3 linked regions of the Homo sapiens genome follow. The protein of the gene in region 3 purifies or fractionates together with the protein of the main gene of each other region. This does not show direct contact. Each region holds a gene or a part of one and is shown on either strand. Other genes may lie near its edges.

Region 1 (3,749 bases), on a different chromosome or scaffold from region 3:
TTTGGTAGAGACAGGGTTTCACCATATTGGCCAGGCTGGTCTCGAACTCCTGACCTCAGGTGATCCGCCCACCTCTCGGCCTCCCAAAGTGCTGGGATTACAGGTGTGAGCCACTGTGCCCGGCCAAAACGCAGTCTCTAAAAACATAATTAAAAAATAATTAAAACAGGGTGAGTCTGAGACCATCCCAGGAAACCTGGCTTCCACTGCACTGAGGAGGAAGCCACAGTGGGTGGGGGTCCCCAGACCTGGGAATGGGAAGGCACTGCCCAAGCTCTGCTCTTCTTCCAAGAATCCTGATGTTAACGCAGACTCCCCACCCCAGCCCTGCTGCCCCTGCTCCCAAAAAGCAAGCAGCACAGTAGCTGCACACAGGGCTGGGTGTCCATGTCCCACCTTCTATGGGCTGGGCTCTCATGGAGGAGGGGCTGCAGCAGCGACCCCAGGCTGCCCAGGCCAAGGGAGACAGAGACCCAGAGGCAGGCGGAGGATGTGAAGCAACTTTAATTGCCACCCTCAGACGGGGCAGCAGGAGTGTCTTAAGCACAGGGCCGTTCTACCCCCTGGGAGCTGCCTGGGGCCAGCCCCTCAGTTCTGGCTGTGGCAGGTTCCCCATCCTAGCTCCCCGGATCTCCATAGGGAGTGTCCAGGGACCCTCAATCTCCAGGGCCACTTCTGCAGGAGCTCGGGTTCGAGGTTCCACGTGGCCAGAAGAGCTCAGGTCTCTGAGGGCTGGTGTGCCCGGGTACCCATCCGCATCACTGCTCTCCTCCTGTCCGGCTACGCCCAGGGCTGAGTGACGGTGGTGGCAAGTGCTTGTCCTCAGGGCAGCGAGGTCTTCTGTTCTGACAGCAGCAGGGACTCCTTCATGGCCACCAGTAACCCCAGTGGGCGGAGGCGCTCCTGGGCTCGGAGCCAGGACAAAAGGAGGAGGGTGGCGGTGACCAGGCTTGCACTGAGCACCGCTGTGGGGAACAGATGGACAGAGGAGTAAGGAGGGGGAAGGCAAGAGCCCCCACACCCACCAAGCTCCATACACATGGGGATGGGAGTTCTGCAGCTCATCCCTCCCCACCCACCTCCCCTGAATCCCCGGAGCTCTAAGCCCCCAGCATGGGAGGGTAAGTCCCTCTTACCAGCAGCTGCAATAACCCCATAGGCAGTTGGGCTTCCAGACTGGTCTCCGGCAGAGGAGGATGTGGCATTCCCGACAGAGGGGACACTCTCCAGGGTCACAGGGGGCCCCATGGTTGTGGCATTCCTGAGAGAGGTGACACTCTCCAGGGTCACAGGGGGCCCCATGGTTGTGGCATCCCCTTCCGGGAGGATCTCATTGGTTCCTGCAATAAGCCCAGGCGTTCAGTAGTTGAGGAGAGAGCACTGAAGGCGTGAGGGGGCCAGATGCCCAGGGGAGCCCTTGGGGTTTATCCTCAACCAACCAGGCTGGGTGAAGCTGACTGCCCGTAATTATGTCTTTTTTTTTTTTTTTTTTTGGAGAGGGAGTCTGGCTCTGCCACCCAGGCTGGAGTGCAGTGGCGCAATATTGGCTCAGTGAAACCTCTGCCTCCTGAGTTCAAACAATTATCCTGTCTTAGCCTCCCGAGTAGCTGGGATTACAGGTGCACGCCACCACGCCTAGCTAACTTTTGTATTTTTAGTAGAGACAGGATTTCGCCATGTTGGCCAGACTGGTCTCGAACACCTCACCTCAGGTGATCTGCCTGCCTCGGCCTCCCAAAGTGCTAGGATTACAGGCGTTAGCCACCGTGCCCGGCCTTTTTTAAATTTTTTTGAGACAGAGTTTTGCTGTCACCCAGACTGGTGTGCAGTGGCCCAATCTCAGCTCACTGCAACCTCTGCCTCCCAGGTTCAAGCGGTTCTCCTGACTCAGCCTCCTGAGTAGCTCGGATTACAGGTGTGTGCCACCATGCCCAGCAAATTTTTTTGTACTTTTAGTAGAGACGGGGTTTCGCAGTGTTTGCCAGGCAGGTCTCGAAATCCTGACCTCAGATGATCCGCCCACCTCAGCCTCCCAAAGTGCTGGGATTACAGGCGTGAGCCACCGGGCCCGGCCCCTAATGATGTCTTGATTCCCCCACAGGGATGCAGGCACGGGCAAAGGCATGTGTCCACGCCCCCAGCCTGGCCACGCCCCAGCAGGCAGTGGGTGTCCCCATCTACCCACGAGTCCACCCCAGCCCCGCAGGTGCATACCACAGCCGAGCTCGTCGCTGGAGTCGGGACAGTCTGGGTGGCCGTCGCAGCGCCACGTGAGTGGAATGCAGTCATCGCTCAGCGTGCAACGGAGCTCGCCTGCTAGGCAGGCCAGGCGGCTGCAGTTGCGCAGTTTCTTGTCAGTTCCCCCAGAGCAGTCACTGACGCCGGTGCAGGGGCAGGGGAGGCCAGGGGGCGGTGGGCATTGCCCTTTCTGGGTACATGGCTCAATCCCTGGGGCACAGGGTTGGTCAGGTCCCAAATGCCCACCCAAGAAGGCCCAGGTACTCCCTGAAACCCCATCCCCTGCAAGCCCCACCCTCTAAGAACAGCTGAGCCCAAAAAAATGCTCCCTTCCTAAGGCTCCGCCCCCTGCAACTGTTAACTCCACTTTCTAAGGACAGGCCTCCCTGCAAGCTCTTCCCCTGAGACCCCACTAGCTCTACCTTCCTACAAGCCCACTTTATTCTATTTGTTTGTTTGTTTCTTTCTTTATTTTTTCTTTTGAGACGGGGTCTCCCTTTGCTGCCCAGGCTGCAGTGCAGTGGCGCAATCTCGACTCACTGAAACCTCTGCCTCCCAGGGTCAAGTGATTCTCCTGCCTTAGCCTCCTGACTAGCTGGGATTACAGGGGCCTGCCGCCACATCCAGCTAACTTTTGTATTTTTAGTAGAGATGGGGTTTCACTGTGTTGGCCAGGCTGGTCTCGAACGCCTGACCTCAAGTGATCCGCCTGCCTTGGCCTCCCAAAGTGCTGGGATTACATGTGTGAGCCACCGTACCTGGCTCCCTCCCTCTCTCTTTCCTTCCTTTCTTTCCTTTCTTTCATTTTTCTTTTTTTTTTCTTTTTCTTTTTTTTTCCTGAGACAGTCTTACTCTGTTGCCCAGGCTGGAGTGCACTGGCACAATCCTAGCTCACTGCAGCGGCAACCTCCCAGGATCAAGTGATCGATCCTCCCACCCTAGCCTCCCAAAGTGCTGGGATTGCAGGCGTGAGCCACTGCGCCCAGCCCAAGCCCATCTTAGACCCCGCTTCTTATGACCCACAGACCCAAGTCGCACCCATCCCTGCGGCCCTGCCTTTCCCACAAGCTCCACCTCCGCGTGCCTGGCCCCTGACAAACCACCCTCAGGCCCCGCCCCCTGTAAGCCCCGCCAAGGGGCGTGGCCACTCACTGCACTCCTCCTCATCGCTGCCATCGCTGCAGTCCAAGTCCCTGTCGCAGCGCCAGGTGAGGGGCACGCATAAGCCACTGGTGCGGCACTGGAACTTGGTGGGTGGGCACGAGCCTGAGCTGGGGCCTGCGAGATGGATGCAAATGAAGCCTGGGAAGCTGGAGGCTGGACCTTTCTCCAAGAGCACAGTAGTCACTGGCTGTGATCCGCAGGAGACAGGCGAAGTCCCGGGATATAGGAACCACACTGGCGGCTGCTTGTTACTGAGCCCCTAGTACGAGTGGGGTTCAGAGTGTAGCAGTTCCTGGGCTCAAGAGCCCCACTGGGCAGGTGCTACTGCACTCCCCAGGTTACAGAGA
Region 2 (3,649 bases), on a different chromosome or scaffold from region 3:
GACACTGGGCAAGCCCCTGGGAGAAGGTTGCTTTGGGCAAGTGGTCATGGCGGAAGCAGTGGGAATTGACAAAGACAAGCCCAAGGAGGCGGTCACCGTGGCCGTGAAGATGTTGAAAGGTGAGCGGGGAGGCGGGAGGCTCGGGGAGGGGCTGGGTGGAGAGTCTTATCAAGAAAGTTCCTTTTGTGGCATGTGAACTCTATCATGGCACGGGGTCAGAGAGCACATAGTTGACCTAGGGGTTGAGAAGTTTTCGGTATAAATCAGCATCTCGGACAGACTATTTATCTTGAGCTGTGTGTACTTATAAAGAAAAGCCAGTTTTGTTAGAAAGCGGTAGCCTCCTACATAGAGTTATTCTTTGACTCCTTCTTCGTGACCACAATTCTTCATTCTCTCTGTATTTTTATGTGCTTAGAAATTATCAACTCACATATAATTGAATTTATTAGCTAGGAGTTGGTGTGTTAGATTTGGGACTTAAACCTTAACTTTACAAGTACAAGAAAATTTGTGTTTTTGGAGGGAACGAAGAGACGTAAGGGAGCAGAAAGCCTTCTCTTTTGCGTGAGGAACAAAGCAGAAATGACACTGGTCTGGGAGAGTCACTTAGAAGCTGAGAAGGAGTGAACAGGATCAGGGCTGGTGCAGAGCCTCCTGGGACACATAAACAATTACCCTGAGATGTAAATGTCGTGTTGTGTTTGTGGGACTGTGAACACTTCTACGTTAACCTTCCAACCCTGCTTCATGCCCATGTCCAAAGAACTTAAAGAACTTTTAACCATTAACTTATTCGTCCTGCAGTATTCTTTTATGAGAAGAGTTATAGGGAACTGTCACATTATAAATCCTCTTGTAGGGATCTCGGAAAGAAGATCCCATGCCGAGTGTTTCCCACGTTTCCAGGCAGAGAGGCCCATCCTTGGGATATGGTGCTGGGCATGTCGCAGGCGCTCTGGAGTTAGGCTTTGTCTTTCTTTTGTGGGTTCTCATGGGATAGTCATCACATCCCTCCCAAGGGGAAGTAGCAGGCTGGACTTTGTCAACAAGATGTGCATTTTGTTTTTTGGGTTTTTTAAAAGGCTGTTTATCTGAGTGACTCCCAAGGAAAACTAGAGTGCTTTGAGATGTTCCCCACCTTGGAGCCTGATGCCGGGGAGGAACACTGTGCTGTCTTGCCCCAGGTGTCATGGCACCACTGACTGAGGCAGCCCCTGGCTGCGTACCAGGGCCAGGTGTGGGGAGGACCCAGGCTTCTCATCTCTTTTGGCGGAACTTCTGGTTTTGCTAATGGAGCTCAGAGTTACATGGGATATTGCAAAAAGGGAGGTCTGGGAGTTCTCTTTCTCTTGTGATGCCCAGGCTGGCAGCCTTCCCTGTAAGGACACAGAAGGATATTAGTCCCCAAGCCATTGTGGCGTGTCCTTTCTTACAGCCCACGGCTGTGTCTCCCTCCCTCCTCATGGCCCGTGGCTCCCTCCTTCACATACATCAGTGTAAATTTTGCACACACAGTCACTTGTATTGATCTTCCTTTTGTGAAGCTAAAAAACTGTTTGCAACATGGTTCTTATCCATGCCCATATTTCATTTTTTTTTTAAAGGAAACCCAGATTTTTCCATACTGAATTAGCTTGAGGTGGAGGGCACATGGGAAAGTCTTGCCACTTAGGAGAATCTAAGAGAAGCTAACTGCGAGCCCGCGTATGTGGAACCTGTGCCATTCTTGCTTGAAATTACAGAGCGGAAGTTTATGTAACTTTTCTTAGGATGGGAACTGCAGTGCCCTCTGAGAAGCCACTAGAAGTCGCAGCCCTTTACCTGCTCAGAATGCACATGCACACACGTTTATGGCCCTGTTTATGGGGAACCGTCTGAACCCACCTCGGAACGCTCTAAGGGCCTCGAGGGGCTGGGTTAAGAATGCTTGGTCGGGAGCAAGTCTGTAGTGATTTGAAATGGCCCTACCCTCGGTCTCCTCGCTGGTTTCAGGCACCATGAAGTTTGGTGTGGTTTTCTGAGACGCCTTAGATATGGCAGAGGATGAGATTATCTCATGGTCTAGGAAAGAATTGGCATTAGTGTCAGAAGCCCCTGCTCTCGTCCTGACTCTTGGCCCCATTGGCCCCCCAGTGAGCTCTTTGACACAGAGTGAGGCAGTTCCCTGTGTAGGCCTTTGTCCCTTCCTCGATAAAATGAGGGAGATGATTTGGAAAATCTTTTCTGATTCTGAAATTCAATTTCATGCTGTTTCAACTAAGTCTTTGGCAACTAACAGTAGCTGCCCATGAGTTAGAGGAAATGAACTGATTTGTGAATATGCCTACTGTTCATAGATGATGCCACAGAGAAAGACCTTTCTGATCTGGTGTCAGAGATGGAGATGATGAAGATGATTGGGAAACACAAGAATATCATAAATCTTCTTGGAGCCTGCACACAGGATGGTGAGTAGGAGGAAAAACTGCATTCGCCCAAATACTCTGCAGTTTGATTGAATCATTTTAGAAATGGCTGGGCTTCCAGATCCTGCTCCCAGAGCACCCTGTGTGCATGTTTAAAGTTCTTTTTAAAATCCCCATTGGAAGATGTTCCTAGCCATGAACACAAAGAAGGGTCTGTGCCCGTACCTGGGGGCCAGTGGAAAGGAGGGTGCAGGTGACTTTGGATTTGAGGGCCTAGAGGGCGCTGCTGTTTCTAGGTCATAACCTGGAGGGGGTTTTGGAAAAGGCAGCCTCCTTATGTTTTTGTTTTGTAAGTGCTAAGAGAGATTTGTCAGAATAAGATCCTATGTTTTGGTTGAGAAGTTCTTCCCTTAAAACAGGGATTGAAGAATCCACATCTTGCTGTGGGTCACAGATGGCTGAGCTCCCAAGAATAGCTTAAAAGAGGAGAAAGCGGTATGAAGGAATACGTTATTTTCCCTGGGGGAGAGAGACCCTGGCTTCTTCCATTGAATGTTTACTGGCACTTTGAAATCAATTTGCTAAGTAATTAGTAAACTTGAAAACGCCTATCTTTGACTTAGCAATTTCTCTTGTAGGTCTATATAGTAATTGGTGAACTTTTTCTGTAAAGGGAGGTCGTAGATATTTTAGACTTTTGTGGGCCGTATGGTCTTTGTCGCAACTTCTCGTGTCTGCCATAGTAGTGAGAAAGCAGTGCTAGAAGTACAGAAATGAATGGACCTGGCTGCATGCCAATAAAATTTAATTACCCAAACAGGCGGTAGGCAGGATTTGGCTTGCAGGCTGTAGTCTGCCAACCCCGAGCCTATACCATGGAGAAATTATTGCACACGTGTGTAAGGGAACATGTACAGAGATGTTCATTGCCTACTGTTTGTTATGGCTGAAACCTGGAAGCAAATGCCTATGCATATAAGGGAATGGATAAATAAAGTGTGGTGTGTTTATACGATACAGTATATGCAGCTGTGAAAAGGAATGATCTGGTTTTGTTTTTATAAGCCCAACAGGTTCCAAAAGGATAATGTATGGGTAAAAAATGTTGCAAAGATCTAAGAGCTTTATTATTCATTTATGTGATTAAAAATAATATATTACTTATTGAATAGTTAAAATGAACCAAAAGGATAGAGTGGAGGGATCCATTGCTTTCCAAGAGGGCGCAGGTGACAGCATGA
Region 3 (3,649 bases):
GCACAAATGTGAAATATCTTAAAGAGATTTCATTCTTATATGAGATTGCTTTTTCCATAGCTTAGAAACTAGTTTTTGGGGGGGTAATTTTCAAATATTCTATGAAAGAGACAAGTAGATAAAATGTTAAAATCTGGGCCAGGCGCAGTAGCTCACACCAGTAATCCCAGCACTTTGGGAGGCCAAGGCCGGCAGATCATCTGAGGTCATGAATTCGAGACCGGCCTGACCAACATGCAGAAACCCCGTCTCTACTAAAAATACAAAATTAGCCGGGCGTGGTGGCACATGCCTGTAATCCCAGCTACTCAGAAACGCTGAGGCAGGAGAATCGCTTGAACCTGGAAGGCAGAGGTTGCAGTGAGCCGAGATTGCGCCACTGCACTCCAGCCTGGGCAACAAGAGCAAAACTCAGTCTCAAAAAATTAAAAAAAAAAAAGTTAAAATCTGTAAAACTATTAAATTCCTTTTCATCAACCACGGTGTAACCTGCCATTGGAATGTGGCAATATTAAAAATGAAACAGATTTGCTACAAGTGGGGAGATAAAGTAGCTCTGTTGCCAAAAGTATACCTACATGGAGATTTAGAAATACAAAGGCGAAAGCATCCCACAGGACATTTTGGGCGAAGCTGAAGCAAAGAATAGAAGTGATTTTCTTGCAGTGGTATGTAGTAGCCATTGATGATGATTCCCATCTAGAACTGGCAAGAATCAAAACAATGTAAAGACAAGGCACCATCTGGACTTTATTCACCTAAAAGCACAGTGCCTGACAAATTCTTGCTTGCCTGTGTGAACTGCTCCCTTCGGAGTGATTTTTGCCAAAGAATCAATTAGTAAAGTAGAAGTGACTGGAGTGTTGAGAGAAAGGAAAAAAGTCAAGAAGTAAAAGACTGAGCAAAAAATGCTGTACTCTAGACTTTGTAAGAAAGCAGGTTTTAAAAGCAGAGGGAAAAAATAGGCAGGAATCCATCTTATGCATATATCTTTTTAACATTAAATCCAGAGTTTCCTGTACTGTCATATTATTTTTCATATACCTCTTTTCTCTCCTGGGAAGAATCGTTGGTAATTCCACACAGTGGATTTCTGAAAGCTTCCCCAAACTTCACCCTTATGCCATTACAAGTGTCTTAAAATCATCTTAAATCGTTTAGCATTCTACTTGCCATAATGTATATTCTCTAATTCAACCATGCTTTCACCTCTGACTTAATCTGATAGAACAGTTTACGTCACTAAACACAACTACTTCTTATGTAAGTCCACTACCTGAATATATCATTTACTCTCCTACCAACTCTCAAGGAAAAAAGGCCATTCCAAAGACTCCAAATCCTCTTTCAGAAATTAAAGCTACTCTTACCAAGAATTTCTGAAGCTATTAAATACTATCATTTTCTACCTAACAAACTGATCAGCAATAAAGTTAAGGAGTATTCAAAGATGTGTGAGGGTGCAGAGAGAAGGGCCCTCAGATGGGCGGAAGCACAAACTAATAGAGAATCATTTTTTTGGAAACAATCTGGCAATACATATCTGCCTCAGCATTGATGCCTTTATACCTACTTATTCCACTTCCAGGAATCTATCCTTTAGAAAGTTAGTCAGAAACACAGATTTGTGTAAAAGGTAATTCATCGAGATGTTGTAATGAAATTGTGGCTGCAAAAATGAAAATGAAAAAGCCCTGGTATTCAGAGGTGTGTCTGCATTCAGCCCTGAAATATTTTCTTAAAGCATCATTTAATAATATGCTTGTGGTGTGATAGGGGAAAAAACACATATATCACATATTGGAAACAAACCAAAATGTTGATATTGGTTGTCTCTGGGTGGTAGAATTATGGGTGATACCAGTTTGCTTTTTAAAATACTTTTAGTGTCTTCTTTAAAATATATTACTTGCATAATTAGAATAATAGTTAAAATTATGTCTGAAATTGAGGCTTTAATGTTCTCTCACCAATGAATTCATTCCTGGATGTGTCCTTAACCAACCAAAAACAGACACCTCTTCCATCCTAAATATTTTAGGCACCTCTGCCAATCTCTCCCACTTACCACTTTTCTCAGGTCTGTGTGGCTTTGACTCATCCTGTACATGTTTTCTGATTATCTAACACAATTCTTTCAATGTACATTATGTTCCTTTTCTCATAAATATTACTTTTCAAGGAGACAAGTTTTTTTTAAAGTCCTACTTAAATTGGGGTGTAAAGTTTTATGTGTGTTTTTTTAACTCACCACTATACTAATGAGAAAATTCTATTTTTTTTTTTTAAGACAGGGTCTTGCTATGTTGCCCAGGCTGGCCTCAGACTCCTTCCCTCAGGGGATCCTCTCATCTCAGTCTTACTTGTAGCTAGGATTACAGGCATGTGCCACCAAGCCTGGCTAAGAGTTTAAAGTTCTGACAAGCCACTTTTGCCATCAACATCACTATTATTATTGCCATTATTCTTAAATTAGAAATATTTTAATCCTTTTTACTGCTATTACTCTGATGATATGCCAAAGGTCATGCTCCTCAATTCTGCCTTATTTTCACCTTTTCTCTATTTGGTTTTTCATAATCATTATTAAACCAGCTTAACAAAGTTGTTCTATTTAATCCAATATCTACTGGCTGAACAACTCAAAATTTCAGGTGGCAAAGAAACTGGAGATTAACCAATTGCCATTGCCAAATTATTGTAACAGCATGGAAACTGGCTGTTTCCAGACAGTAGGGCTCCAGAGGTTATCTGAGAAGCCTGAAATTTAAATATGCATTTTCTTTGAGACCCTCTGTTACCCCACCCTACTCTAATTGTAAAAAGAGTCCATTACAACATCATAGGAGCCTGAGGTGCTTAAGCTTTGTAATGCTAGAGTTCATCCACACTTGGGTTATGTGTTTAATCAGTAGCAACAACAATGTAAGTTACAAAATGTCAACATTTATTCTAGAACCCCTTTAGTAGATTACAAACTACACATAAATGCAGATAATTTTTCTTACCTATTAACTCTGCCTAACTACTAAAAGGAAGACAGTGAGGAGAAGGAAGAGGAAGAAGATATGTCAATATTTTTCAATAAAGACTTACTTGAGACCAGCCATGAGTAAGATTTCTGGGGGAAAGGTGCATGTAGAAATTTAATTCGATGAAAAGTCTACCCTCTCTCCCCATTAGCTGTCAGACTACAGGGACTGTGTTTACTCTATTTCTCAAAAAAAGGTCAAGGGTAGATATTCAACACACATTTACTCATGAATGATTCTTAGTACACCCGTCTGGTCTAAGTACAAACTTTATGGAATACATTTTCTGAAAAAAAAAATCAAACAAGCCTAACCTGAATTGGATCTTATGGAATAAAATTCATTAAATTATTTCAAAGCATGATAAATATCCTAGAAAGCTAATAACCCATTCCCTAAACTGCAACTAGAGAGAGCGCCCCTGCTGATTCCAAGTTCTAAATGATTACTCAGGGCCACAAGGCTCTTGGTCAGTGGACAGGTGACTAAGAATGTAGTAAGAGTGGAAACATTCATTTTCTTAACTGTTGAAGACAAACTAAGACAGACACTTCCTATTATGTACTTGCTTCCTGACAAGTTAGATTTTCTTCTAGTGAATTGAAAACAAGCATGAA

The links.
Region 1: the proteins of TSPAN3 (region 3) and CD320 purify together in Homo sapiens (affinity purification with mass spectrometry; 3 studies listed by BioGRID and IntAct, with this or other methods). This does not show direct contact.
Region 2: the proteins of TSPAN3 (region 3) and FGFR2 purify together in Homo sapiens (affinity purification with mass spectrometry; 3 studies listed by BioGRID and IntAct, with this or other methods). This does not show direct contact.

The regions. Positions count from the first base shown.
Region 1 is NC_000019.10:8,301,641-8,305,389, forward strand, and holds the end of CD320 (CD320 antigen isoform 1 precursor), read right to left. Parts: intron 3,517-3,749; coding exon 3,391-3,516; intron 2,449-3,390; coding exon 2,215-2,448; intron 1,341-2,214; coding exon 1,137-1,340; intron 966-1,136; coding exon 823-965; 3' UTR 487-822; downstream 1-486. UniProt on the Homo sapiens protein: Receptor for transcobalamin saturated with cobalamin (TCbl). Plays an important role in cobalamin uptake. Plasma membrane protein that is expressed on follicular dendritic cells (FDC) and mediates interaction with germinal center B cells.
Region 2 is NC_000010.11:121,497,296-121,500,944, reverse strand, and holds part of FGFR2 (fibroblast growth factor receptor 2 isoform 1 precursor), read left to right. Parts: coding exon 1-119; intron 120-2,339; coding exon 2,340-2,450; intron 2,451-3,649. UniProt on the Homo sapiens protein: Tyrosine-protein kinase that acts as a cell-surface receptor for fibroblast growth factors and plays an essential role in the regulation of cell proliferation, differentiation, migration and apoptosis, and in the regulation of embryonic development.
Region 3 is NC_000015.10:77,061,110-77,064,758, forward strand, and holds part of TSPAN3 (tetraspanin-3), read right to left. Parts: intron 1-3,649. UniProt on the Homo sapiens protein: Regulates the proliferation and migration of oligodendrocytes, a process essential for normal myelination and repair.